Linked DNA regions of Homo sapiens: region 1 is linked to region 2. The links come from fine-mapping of genetic effects on gene expression. A gene starts in region 2. The other region holds a variant in brackets. All regions are shown on one strand. Distances are between the middles of the regions. Region 1 holds the start of PTMA (prothymosin alpha). Region 2 holds the start of PDE6D (phosphodiesterase 6D).

Region 1 (5,300 bases), 76 kb after region 2:
ATTAAAAAGAAAGCGAGAGTTCAGGGACTCTGGCGATAAAGCTGCCGGAGTCCGCGGCGGCGGAGGAGGCGCGCGGCGGAGGCGGCTGCGGCGAGCAAGGAGGCGGATGAGGAACAATGCAAAGATGGCTTTTCAGAGCAGCCAGTGGGGGACTCACGCGGCGCCAGAAGCTTTAATATAGATTAGTGGGCGGCGCTCGGCTTCCCATGCCCGGCCGCTATTGGCTGAGCGCAGGGAGCGGGCGCTCGCTCATTGGCTCGATTCCGAACAATGGACAAGCGTGCTTAAAGCGGCAGTGCCCCGGCGCGTCCCGCGCTGCGCAGTCGCCGATCGCACTGTCATTCAAGGCCGGAGTTTGCCGGGTCTCAGCAGGGCCGAGGGCGCGGGGGAGGGGTGCGCGAGCGCGTTCCGGACGCGCGCTCCCGCAGCTGTTTTGCTGGGGCTGCTGACGCAGAAAGCCAAAGCGCGGCAAAGCTGCCCGCCCAACCCCCTTCCCTCCCTCTCCCGCCCTCCCCGCGGCTGCTCGGAAGGAGGGGGAGGGAAGAGGGGGCGGCGGGCACACGACGGCTGCCAGCGCGGGGGAGGGGAAGGCGGGGTGCTGGGCCGCGCTCGCCCCGGGCGGTGCCCAGCGCAGTGCCCGCGGAGGTGCCCGCCCCCCGCGCCTGGGCGCCTTGGACCAAGGATTGTCCCAGTGCAAGTGGACGGCAGCCCCACGACGAGCAACGAGGTCACGAGGCCGAGACCCGGGCACCTGGGCCGCCCCGTCCCTCTGCCATGCCCTCGCGCCCTCCCAGGGCAGGGCACCCCTAGTCCTGTGGGCAGGCGACCTCGATTGCCCACCATCAGGTCCGGCGTCCGTCGGCCAAGTCAGTCGACAAGCGGGCACCGTCCCAAGCACACACGGATTCATGTATCAAGCGGACTCGATGCGCGATGCCGGCTCCAGCCCTCGAGTGGGACAGCCCGCGGGCCCCGCACGGCATAGCGGTCCCCTCATTCTAGGTTTCTAGTTAGGGTCTGTCCCGAGCGGTCACTGCCGTCGCGACAGCCTCAGGGCAGCCTCCTCCAGGGGCCTGCCGGGCCATCGAGTCTACCCTTCTCCCACCCCACTGCTGGACTGCGATGGGCACATGAACATTACAGAGTTCCTCGGGAAAAATCATCGTCTCTGGAGCCAGTTGGGCTAATCTTTGGGGACTACCTGAAATTTGGGGGACCATTTAGAGAACCATGCGGAGCCCCGAGAAAGGGGAGCATCAAAACGCCACACTCAAGATGGCGCCGGGCTCGGCAAGCGTGGCGTGACGTAGCGATCTAGCTCACGTGGGCGATCCGAGAACAACAGGCTACGCTGGCCTTATCGCCACCGCACTTAGCTGTCGAACTAAGAAATCGGTTGTGTGGGAAAAAGGACCAGAATAGGTGGAAAGATAGTCCAGAAATTTACCTGTGCCACACACAAGATGGCGAGACGTAGGGTTCGTCCCTGTGCTGCCAAAAGGGGGCGCCCGACACGGAAGGCGGGACTCCGGAGACACGAGCGCACATTGGCCGAGAGTGGCGGGCGAACACAAAGTTGACGCTTTGCGTCCTTCCATTGGCAGTTTCTTCCGTCTGTCTCTCGGTTGCAGCCGAGCTGGGAATGGGGAAAACCCGGAGTGTGGGATCGTGGAGGGCGGACGATGCCAAGTCCAGCAGAGCTTGCGCTCGGGGCTAGAAGAGAGACTGAGTCTCCCTTCTCAGTTTCATTAGGTAATGGGCGACATGGCTCCGTCTCCACAGCGGGGCTTTGCTGAGCTTAGCACGCAGTCTCCCGGCGGGGAGGAGGCGCGCAGTGCCGGGCGCCACTCCGTCTCCAGTACGCGTTAGGCCCGCGTTCCCAGGTGCCCGTCTGGCCGCTGGACTGTTGGCCTTTCCGGAGCGAGTTTTACTTTAGGAAGAAGCCCGGGATCCCGGTAGTTTAGCCTGAAGAAACGTGGGGCAGATGCTGGGCAGGGCGGGGATACCGCGCCAACACCCGCTGCCCAGCGGTCGCCCTCCTATGCAGCGGCGAAGGGACGCCCGCTGTGTCTCCGCCCTGCCCCCAGGCGCCCCAGTGGCTGGAGGTGGCATTCTCCACTGGACGGGCGCGCCTCAATCCGGGGGACTTCCACAGTGCTGTTCCCGAGGAC[T/C]ACGCGTCTCAACTCTTTGTCGGGTTCCCTCCCTCCCACTGCCAGTCTGTCTTCACCGCCGCGCAGACCTGGGGCCGCCCTTCACAGAGGAAGGGCTCCTTGACCTCAGCCACCGTGACCCCCTCCTTTGTGTCACATTCTCAGAGAGTTGGAGGGATTATGCGTCATCGTAAACAGGGGGACAGAGCGCCTTCCACCTGCGGCGCATCCATTAAGTTCCAGTTACCCTCGAGAGGATTGTTTTTTCCACGAAACCCAGATGCAATGAGAGCCTGGCTTGTACCATCTCTAAGCATCGAGGCTTCCCCCTCGTCTGGGTGGTGGCCTTCGGGCAGTGGCTCCGGAAAGGCCATCAAGGCTTCCCCGTCGTCTGGATGGTGGCCTTCGGGCAGTGGACTGTGTCCATAGCTGAAAACCAGACTTGACAGTTCTGGATTCAGGCTGTTGTGGGAGCGGGAAGGTCAAACACCCAGAAGGAACTGATGAATGTGAATTTCCCTCTAAGAACTGCTTTGCCTGGCCGGGCGCGGTGGCTCACGCTTGTAATTCCAGCACTTTGGGAGGCTGAGGTGGGTGGATGCCGAGGTGAGTGGATCACGAGGTCAGGAGTTCGAGACCAGCCTGACCAACATAGTGAAACCCCCGTCTCTACTAAAAATACAAAAATTAGCCGGGCCTGGTGGCGTGCGCCTGTAATCCCAGCTACTCGGGAGGCTGAGACAGGAGAATCGCTTGAATCCGGGAGGCAGAGGTTGCAGGAGCTGAGATCACGCCATTGCACTCCAGCCTGGGCAACAGAGTGAGACTCCATCTCAAAAAAAAAAACAAAAAAAGAACTGTTTTCTGACGTTATTCCCATGCAGGTGCCTTTGCTAGAAGTGGGTGAGGAAGGCTCATGCCCATCTGGTTCCAGAACCACCACTTAAATTTCCCAAACACTCACTGAATGCCCGCTGTGTACATGGCAGTGAGCCTTTGACTCATGCTTCATTTTCATGTACAAGGTGGGTAGGACAGTTATGGAGTTGAACCATATGAAACTGATGTCTATGTAGGTGAAAACGAACTGAAAATCAACACATTTACAGGTTCAACTTCTGATATAACCCTCCTTTTAACAAATCAAAAAAGCAAACCTAGAGATTATAGCAAGGGACTTGGAGTTACCCACTGGATCAATGATGGAGCCGAGGCTAAGTCCTAAAACAGAGGAATCTGCATTTTTAGATGAGCCCTGGGGCAGAAGTTGCCCCCATGGACCTCCCTCTCATCCCAGGAGTGTGGTATCTGACAGCTCATAGTGGGGGAGTTATTTAGGCTATGAAGAACCGTGTTCCTTCAGCAACAGGTAGCTCCCTACCTCTTTTGCTGTTTCTTTTTTTTTTTTTTTTTTTTGAGACAGAGTCTCACTCTGTTCAGCCCAGGCTGGAGTGCAGTGGCGTGATCTCAGCTCACCACAACCTCCGCCTCCCGGGTTCAAGGGATTCTTCTGCCTCAGCCTCCCGAGTAGCTGGGACTACAGGCGTGCACCACCATGCCTGGCCAATTTTTGTATTTTTAGTACAGATGGGGTTTACTATTTTTGTATTTTTAGTACAGACGGGGTTTCACCATATTGTCCAGGCTGGTCTCAAACTCCTGACCTCATGATCCGCCCACCTCGGCCTCCCAAAGTGCTGGGATGACAGGCGTGAGCCACCGTGCCAGGCTTTTTTTTTTTTGAGACGAAGTTTCACTCTGTTGCCCAGGCTGGGGTGCATTGGCATGATCTTGGCTCACTGCAACCTCCGCCTCGTGGGTTCAAGTGATTCTCCTGCCTCCCTCAGCCTCCTGAGAAGCCAGGATTACAGGTACCTGCTACCATGCCCAGCTAATTTTTGTATTTTTAGTAGAGACGGGGTTTCACCATGTTGGCCAGGGTGGTCTCAAACTCCTGACCTCAAGTGATCCGCCCGCCTCAGCCTCCCAAAGTGCTGGGATTACAGGCATGAGCCACCACACCGGCCCTCTTTTGCTGTTTCTGAACAGACTATTCTTCCTGTCCTCTGTCACTTCCACTCATTGATACATCTCATGCCCTTTGTTATTACAGAGGAAGTCAGGCACTTTGGTGACCTTGCCCTTCAAACCCCCCAAGACAAGCTGGTGTGCCCTGGTAAGCCTGCTTTCCTGACCCCAGCCTGAGATACAGTGGGCTTCGGCTAGAGCTGCTGTGAGCAAGGGACCCAATATGTCCTCCAGGCATGTTTTGTTTTGTTTTGAGATGGGGTCTTGCTATGTTGCCCAAGCTGAACTCCAACTCCTGAGCTCAAGCTATCCTCGCACCTCAGCCTCCTGAGTAGCTGGGACAACAGATGCTTGCTACTGTGCCTGGCTTGTTTTGGGGGAATTTTCACAGGGACACCTCTGGGTGGTCTACACACTGTCCACATGGCCCACAGGCCTCTCCCCGCCCAGCCTGAGTAACACATTGATTTCATCTGCCTGGCCCTGTGGGCACTTCAGTTTGCAACTAAGCCTGCTCCTAAAGCCATTTACAACATATTTCTAATTGGTTATCTCACAAATCTGCTTGATCCCCAAAAGATCAGGCAGAATGAATTTTTAAGCTGCCTGGGTTCAAATGGCAGCCCTGACATACACTAGCTTTGTGAATTGGGCAAGTTACTTTCTCTCCTCTAAGAAACAGAGAGGACGGCCAGGTGTGGTGGCTCACACCTCTATCCCCAGCACTTTGGGAGGCCTAAGCAGGAGGATTGCTTGAGCTCCGGAGTTGGAGACCAGTCTCGGCAACATGACGAAACATCGACTCTAAAAATTTTTTAAAAATTAGCCGGGCATGGTGGCATGTGCCTGTAGTCCCAGCTACTCAGAAGGCTGAGGTGAGTGGATTGTTTGAGTCCAGGAGGTTGAGGCTGCAGTGAGCCATGATGGTGTCACTGTACTCCAGCCTGGGCAACACAGCAAGACTCTGTCTTAAAAAATAAAAAATAGGCCAGGCGCTGTGGCTCACGCCTGTAATCCCAGCACTTTGGGAGGCTGAGGCGGGCGGATCACGAGATCAGGAGTTCAAGACCAGCCTGGCCAACATAGTAAAACCCCATCTCTACTAAAAATACAAAAAATTAG
Region 2 (5,371 bases):
AGAGACAGAGTCTTACTCTGTCACCGCGGCTGGAGTGCAGTGGCACTATCATAGCTCACCTCAGCCTTGAACTTCTGGGCTCAAGGGATCCTACCACCTCCACCTCCCAAGTAGCTAGGACTAGAGGTGCGTGCCACCACACCCGGCAAATTTATTCCTTTTTTTTTTTTTAAAGATGGGGTCTCACTATGTTGCTCAAGCTGGTCTTCCCTGATCTCAAGTGATCCTCCCACCTTGGCTCCCAGAGTGCTGAGATTACAGGCGTGAGCCACCACGCCCAGGCAGTGGCTGCACTGAAAGCCCTTCAAAGTGTGCCTCCCTCCTAACTCCAGCTTTGTCGCACCCCACCCCCTCCCCCTTCTCAGTCCAAACTCCCATGCCCGGCACAACTTACACCCTCCCTCTCAGACACCACACCTATGCTCAAGCTTGCTCTTTTTTGGAATGCTCTTCTATCAGCCTGTAAAAAACCTGCCAACTCTAAAAGCAAAGATTTCTGAAATCCAATGCAAAAAACACTAACCATAATAAAAAGCACGGAACTATTGCACTGTGTTAAAATTAAGAATTTCTGCTTGTCAGATGCAGTGGAGTACACCTATAGTCTTACTATAGCTACTTGCGAGGCAGAGGCAGGAGGATCACTTGATCCCAGGAGTTCGAGGTTGCAGTGGGCAATGCTGGTGCCTGTGAATAGCCACTGCATTCCAGCCTGGGCAACACAGCAGAGACCCCATCCCTCAAAAATATAATTTGTTTCAAAAGACACCAGTAAGAGAGTGAAAAGACAAGCCATGCCTTGGAAAAGATATCTGCAAAGCATATATCAAAGAACTCCATATCCAGACTGTAAAGAACTACAAATCAATAAGAAGACAGCCCAATTTTTAAAAGTTGGGAAAAGAACAGGCACTTCACGAAAGAGGACGTTCAACTAGCCAACAAGCACATTGAAAGGTGCTCAACATCAGGAAAAATGCAAATAAATACCTTAATGAGATACCACATTCAGCCAGAACGGCTACAATTAAGAAGACTGACAACAAAACTCTTGTGTTGACAAGGATAAGAGGCACCTAGAACTCTCTCATATTGCTGGCAAAGGCGTAAATTGGTACAATCATTTTGAAAAACTGGCAATGTCTACTATCACTGATCATGTGCATACCCTCCCTACACACTAGCAATTCCTCTCCTAGAAATGTGTGCAAGTGTCTACAAAAAGAAACATGTAAGAATGCTCACTACGGCTTTGCTAATAATAGTCCAAAAAATAACAACCCAAATGCCCGCCAACAGTGGAAAAGATAAATTGTGGTATAAACATACAACAGAATACTATTCAGCAATTAAAAGGCTACACACAACATGGATGAATTTCACAAAAATACTGATAAAGTAAAAAAGCCAGACACATACTGTACATACTGTATTATTATATTTAACTGGAATTCAAGAACAGAGAAAACTGATCTATGGTGATACAGTCAGAAGAGTGATTATCTCAATATGTAAGGATGTAATACTGATTGGGAGGGAGCACTAAGTGTGCTAGAAATGTTCTATATCTTGATTTGGGTAGTGGCGACAGGGGTGTATACCTATGTGAAAATTGTTCCCATACTGTATGTTACACCTCATTAACAAAAAAAAAACTTTTTTAACATGGAAAAAAAATTCAAGTTCAAATGCCACCTTGTCCATTAAAGTTTTGCCAGCTGCAATGAACCTTTTCATCAGGGCCTCCTTAGCATTCTGATGTCATTTCTTTATGCCATTTTATCACACTCCATCTTGAATCTCAGTGGAGTCTCCTTATTTCCCTAAATATATGTTCATCTTCCTGGTGGCAGTGACCATGTCCTTCACCTTTTACCCACTCAGTGCCTGACAAATAACAGGCTGAAAAGATATTTGTTGAATTACATGGAAGAAAAAATTGGGTGAGTTCCCAGATGGGTGAAAGTGGGGACAGGCAGAGGAAGGAAGGCCAAGAGAAGGACAGAGGAGGTTTCCAAGGAAACCGTGGCTCACACTGTAATTTTACCTACTTCCTGAAATCACATTAAATGTCACCTTGAGTGGCAAAAAACAAAACACCAAATCCTACCTAGGCTGAAAATAAATAAATATCACACTCCCTCACTCGCAAGAAATCCACCAAATAAATGCTACCTAATTCTGGGTGTTTCAACAGTGGATAGGAAAACCGTTCAAGGAGAATAATTCACATTGCCATGCTGCTAAAAATATCACCTCCTTAGTGTGGTGCAAAGAGTCCAGACTGCAAGTCAGCCGACTTAGGGCTGAATTCTAACTCTGCCCGAACTTGCTGTGATCTGTGGCCAATCCCTTCGCCTCTCTGGGCCTCAATTTCCTCATACGTAACAACAGGGGATAGATTAGCAAAGTCCCTTTATGTTTTGATATTCTGAGTATACAATCCATAGCTCTCCCGGTGCAAACCAGGAATACAGCAAAAAACCCTGAAATACATGTAAAAGGCGCCTCAGACCAACAAACAAGCACGATTTGAAGAAGTCATTTTGTTCTCTTTCACGGTTTAATCAGTGTTTTTGTTTGTTGTTTGCAGCCTTACCATGATTTGCAGATGTCTGAGTTCCATGTAAACAGAAGTTAACTCTCTGCGGGCTGTCATCTTCTTTTGAGGGTGAGAAGGGTCTTCCCGTTGGGTTTCAAGTCTCGGGATTCCGAAACGACCAACTCAGCGGGCGGGTTTGTGAATTTGCGCACACTGCGCGGCACACTGGAGTCTAAGTTACAGAGGAACCGAGTGCAGGGGATGCTGGGATTTGTAGTCCCCGGGCCTCTTTGTGGTGCGCTGGGATCTGTGGTCCCCCGAGTGCGCCGCTGGAATGCTGGGAAATGTAGTCTCTGTCGCGTCGCACAGTGCAACTCAGCTGCCGTCTCAGACGGCTAGTGTGCTCAGTGGCTGGAGCAGGTCCCTAAAGCCTCTGCAGATCCGAAGCCAACCCTCCGCTGGGACAAACTCTAGGCAACAACACCAGATGAATATTGTGTCCTATGGGACTTCCCGGGGAGGGCCCTTCCCATTGACGTTAACAGTCCCCCTGCGAAGCCGCTGCGCGCTCCTACTGGCTGGTTGAGATGCCAATCGCCAAGGCTGGCTTTCCATTGGTTCCAGGAGGGCACTGCGAGGCTAGGGGGAAGGAGAAGGGATCAGAAGCGGGAGCTGAGGGGAGAGAGAGGCCGGTCCTGGTCTGGCCGCTGCGGCTGCTAGCCCGAGGTCTCCAAGCCGGGCTGCGGCTCCATCCTCGGCTCCTGGGCACCGTCTGCGAGGCTCCGCCGACCAGAGTGAGAAAGCCGCGGGCGGCGACCGCCGCATCATGTCAGCCAAGGACGAGCGGGCCAGGGAGATCCTGAGGGGCTTCAAACTGTATCCGTCCGGGAGCGGGGCGGGGCCGGGAGGACTTGGGAGGCGGCCGCTCACTGAGGAGACTGGCCGGGGGCGGGGGCCGCGCCAGGTGGGCCCCACAGAAGAAGGGCCGCGGGAGGGGAGAGGAAAGGAACAGCGTGCCGAGCACCCGGCGGGACCCGGCGCGAGAGGCGCCCCAAGGGGCGTCCTGAGGGAGGAAGGGGACGTTGACGGGAGCGCCGGGGGGTGGCGGGTGGAGACGGGGGAGCCTGGGGGACGGGGCTGCGAGAGGTGCCGGGCGTCGGAAACGCTGTCGGAGAAGCCGGCTGGGTTCCGATCCCCGGCCGGGACCCAGAGGCCGGGATGGGGCTGCGGCCCGCGGAGAAGGGCTGAGGGGGCGCGGTGGGCTGATCTCGAAGCCTAGAAGCCTCTTTGGCTATAAGCCTACCCGGGGAGCGGGGAACAGTGACTTGGAGCGGGCGACCTTGTGTGGGACAAATACCAGTGCTTTTAAAACTCTCTCAGGTCCCCCACCGCACCGCACCGCACCCCACCCCCGTCTGGTTTCCACAACTTCTCTTCCAAACTTGTGGCTTCTTCCAGGACTGGAGTAGTTGGGGGAGGTGGGGAAAGAGAAGTCCAAGATCGACCTCGTCTTAACACTCTTGGCCTTCTCAGGCATTGGTCACTGCTTCCCCCTCAGCGCCTCAGTTTTCTTTCCAGCAAGATGAGGACCATAGGCTTAGGTGTGGGGTGCCTCGCGCTGGGACTCCTAGCCGAGGTGTCTTTGCTCGCTCCTGTCGGTGCGGTTATGCCTAGCTGTGGTGGAGCTGTCCAGCAATGGTGTGATGTCGCTGGGGCCACGGTAGGATAGAGTGGGGTAGAGAAATCATTGCCTCGGGCCTGTTGTGGTGCCCCTTTTGCATCCTCTCCGTAAGGAAGCTTTGTGTTTTCGTGGAGTGTGTTAGTCTGTCACCATATGATGCAGATGAAAAAATGCAAACTTGGATATTCAAATTTTCCATTCTCCTGCCAACTTTAATCTCTTCATGCATCCTATCTGTAATCTATAGTACGAACGTTCTTAAATTGCTCCCTCAGTGAAAAGGTAGTCACCACTTCAGGGCTCCTCCCTTGGAGGTTTAGTAAAGCACTGTTTTCTTGGTATTCTGTTGCGTTTTCACAATGTCCATGTCACGCTTGCAAATTTAATTGCTTTGCTATAATCAGAAACCAAGTTGGTAATACATTTTAGACCACAGTGCAAAAAGGAAGTTTTGGATGTACAAGTGAGATTTTTCGAATGGAAATTGATCTATGCTTTTTAAAAAAACTAAAGGCTGTATCACCTTTGCATACTACCATCTGTGATAAACTTTCAGTACTTTCATGTTTTGGTTTAGTAGCAGCCTCTTTTATAGCTCCATGTGCCTTTCTGTGTTTCTCTCCATAATGGATCAAATAGGTATATAGGGATGACTGAAGTGCTGGAAAAGCTATGACATGGATTTTATTTTTCCCTCAAATAATTTATACTATTAACATCTAACAATGTAATAATATTGCTACTTAACATGCTTTGTAGACAGTAAACCGGAAACTGGAGAATTGAGAGATTTCAGAAGCAACGTTTTCATCTGATTGGAAATACCGTATTGCTGAAAAGAAGAAAGGCCTTTTTAATGGCTTTTGAACAAAGCAGAAAAGTTTGAGCTTCTCACCTTCAGTCTTAGCTCTTGAACCTGTTGAGAAAGAGGATAAGAGACAAATACGGAAAAGAGTTTCAGAAAGCAGAATCTGTGTCAGCCCACTGGAAGGAAAAGCGAATCAACCGATTCAGTGATGTTAGTGCATCCAGAAACAGGCTTTTGGGAAAAGCTTGACCTGAGCTGATTAAATCCTGAAGCACAAGGGAAGCAGCCACATCAAAAAGTTAGCATGAGAGCAGTGGCGTGCTCATCCTCTGGTAGCCTT

Evidence for each region.
Region 1: its variant is fine-mapped to the expression of PDE6D in whole blood (TOPMed, PIP 0.94).

What each region holds. Positions count from the first base shown.
Region 1 is chr2:231,703,376-231,708,675 of GRCh38, reverse strand. It overlaps PTMA (prothymosin alpha), which reads right to left and starts at 151. Exons shown (of 5, transcript NM_002823.5): 1 at 1-151. RefSeq lists enhancers at 43-102, 1-103, 104-741, 1,381-2,019 and a silencer at 343-742. The variant T/C (reference allele first, on the strand shown) is at 2,172.
Region 2 is chr2:231,779,112-231,784,482 of GRCh38, reverse strand. PDE6D (phosphodiesterase 6D) reads left to right here and starts at 3,201. Exons shown (of 5, transcript NM_002601.4): 1 at 3,201-3,418. The coding sequence starts at 3,369. It also overlaps a transcript of COPS7B not described here. RefSeq lists enhancers at 3,175-3,404, 3,955-4,034 and silencers at 3,615-3,664, 3,788-4,011.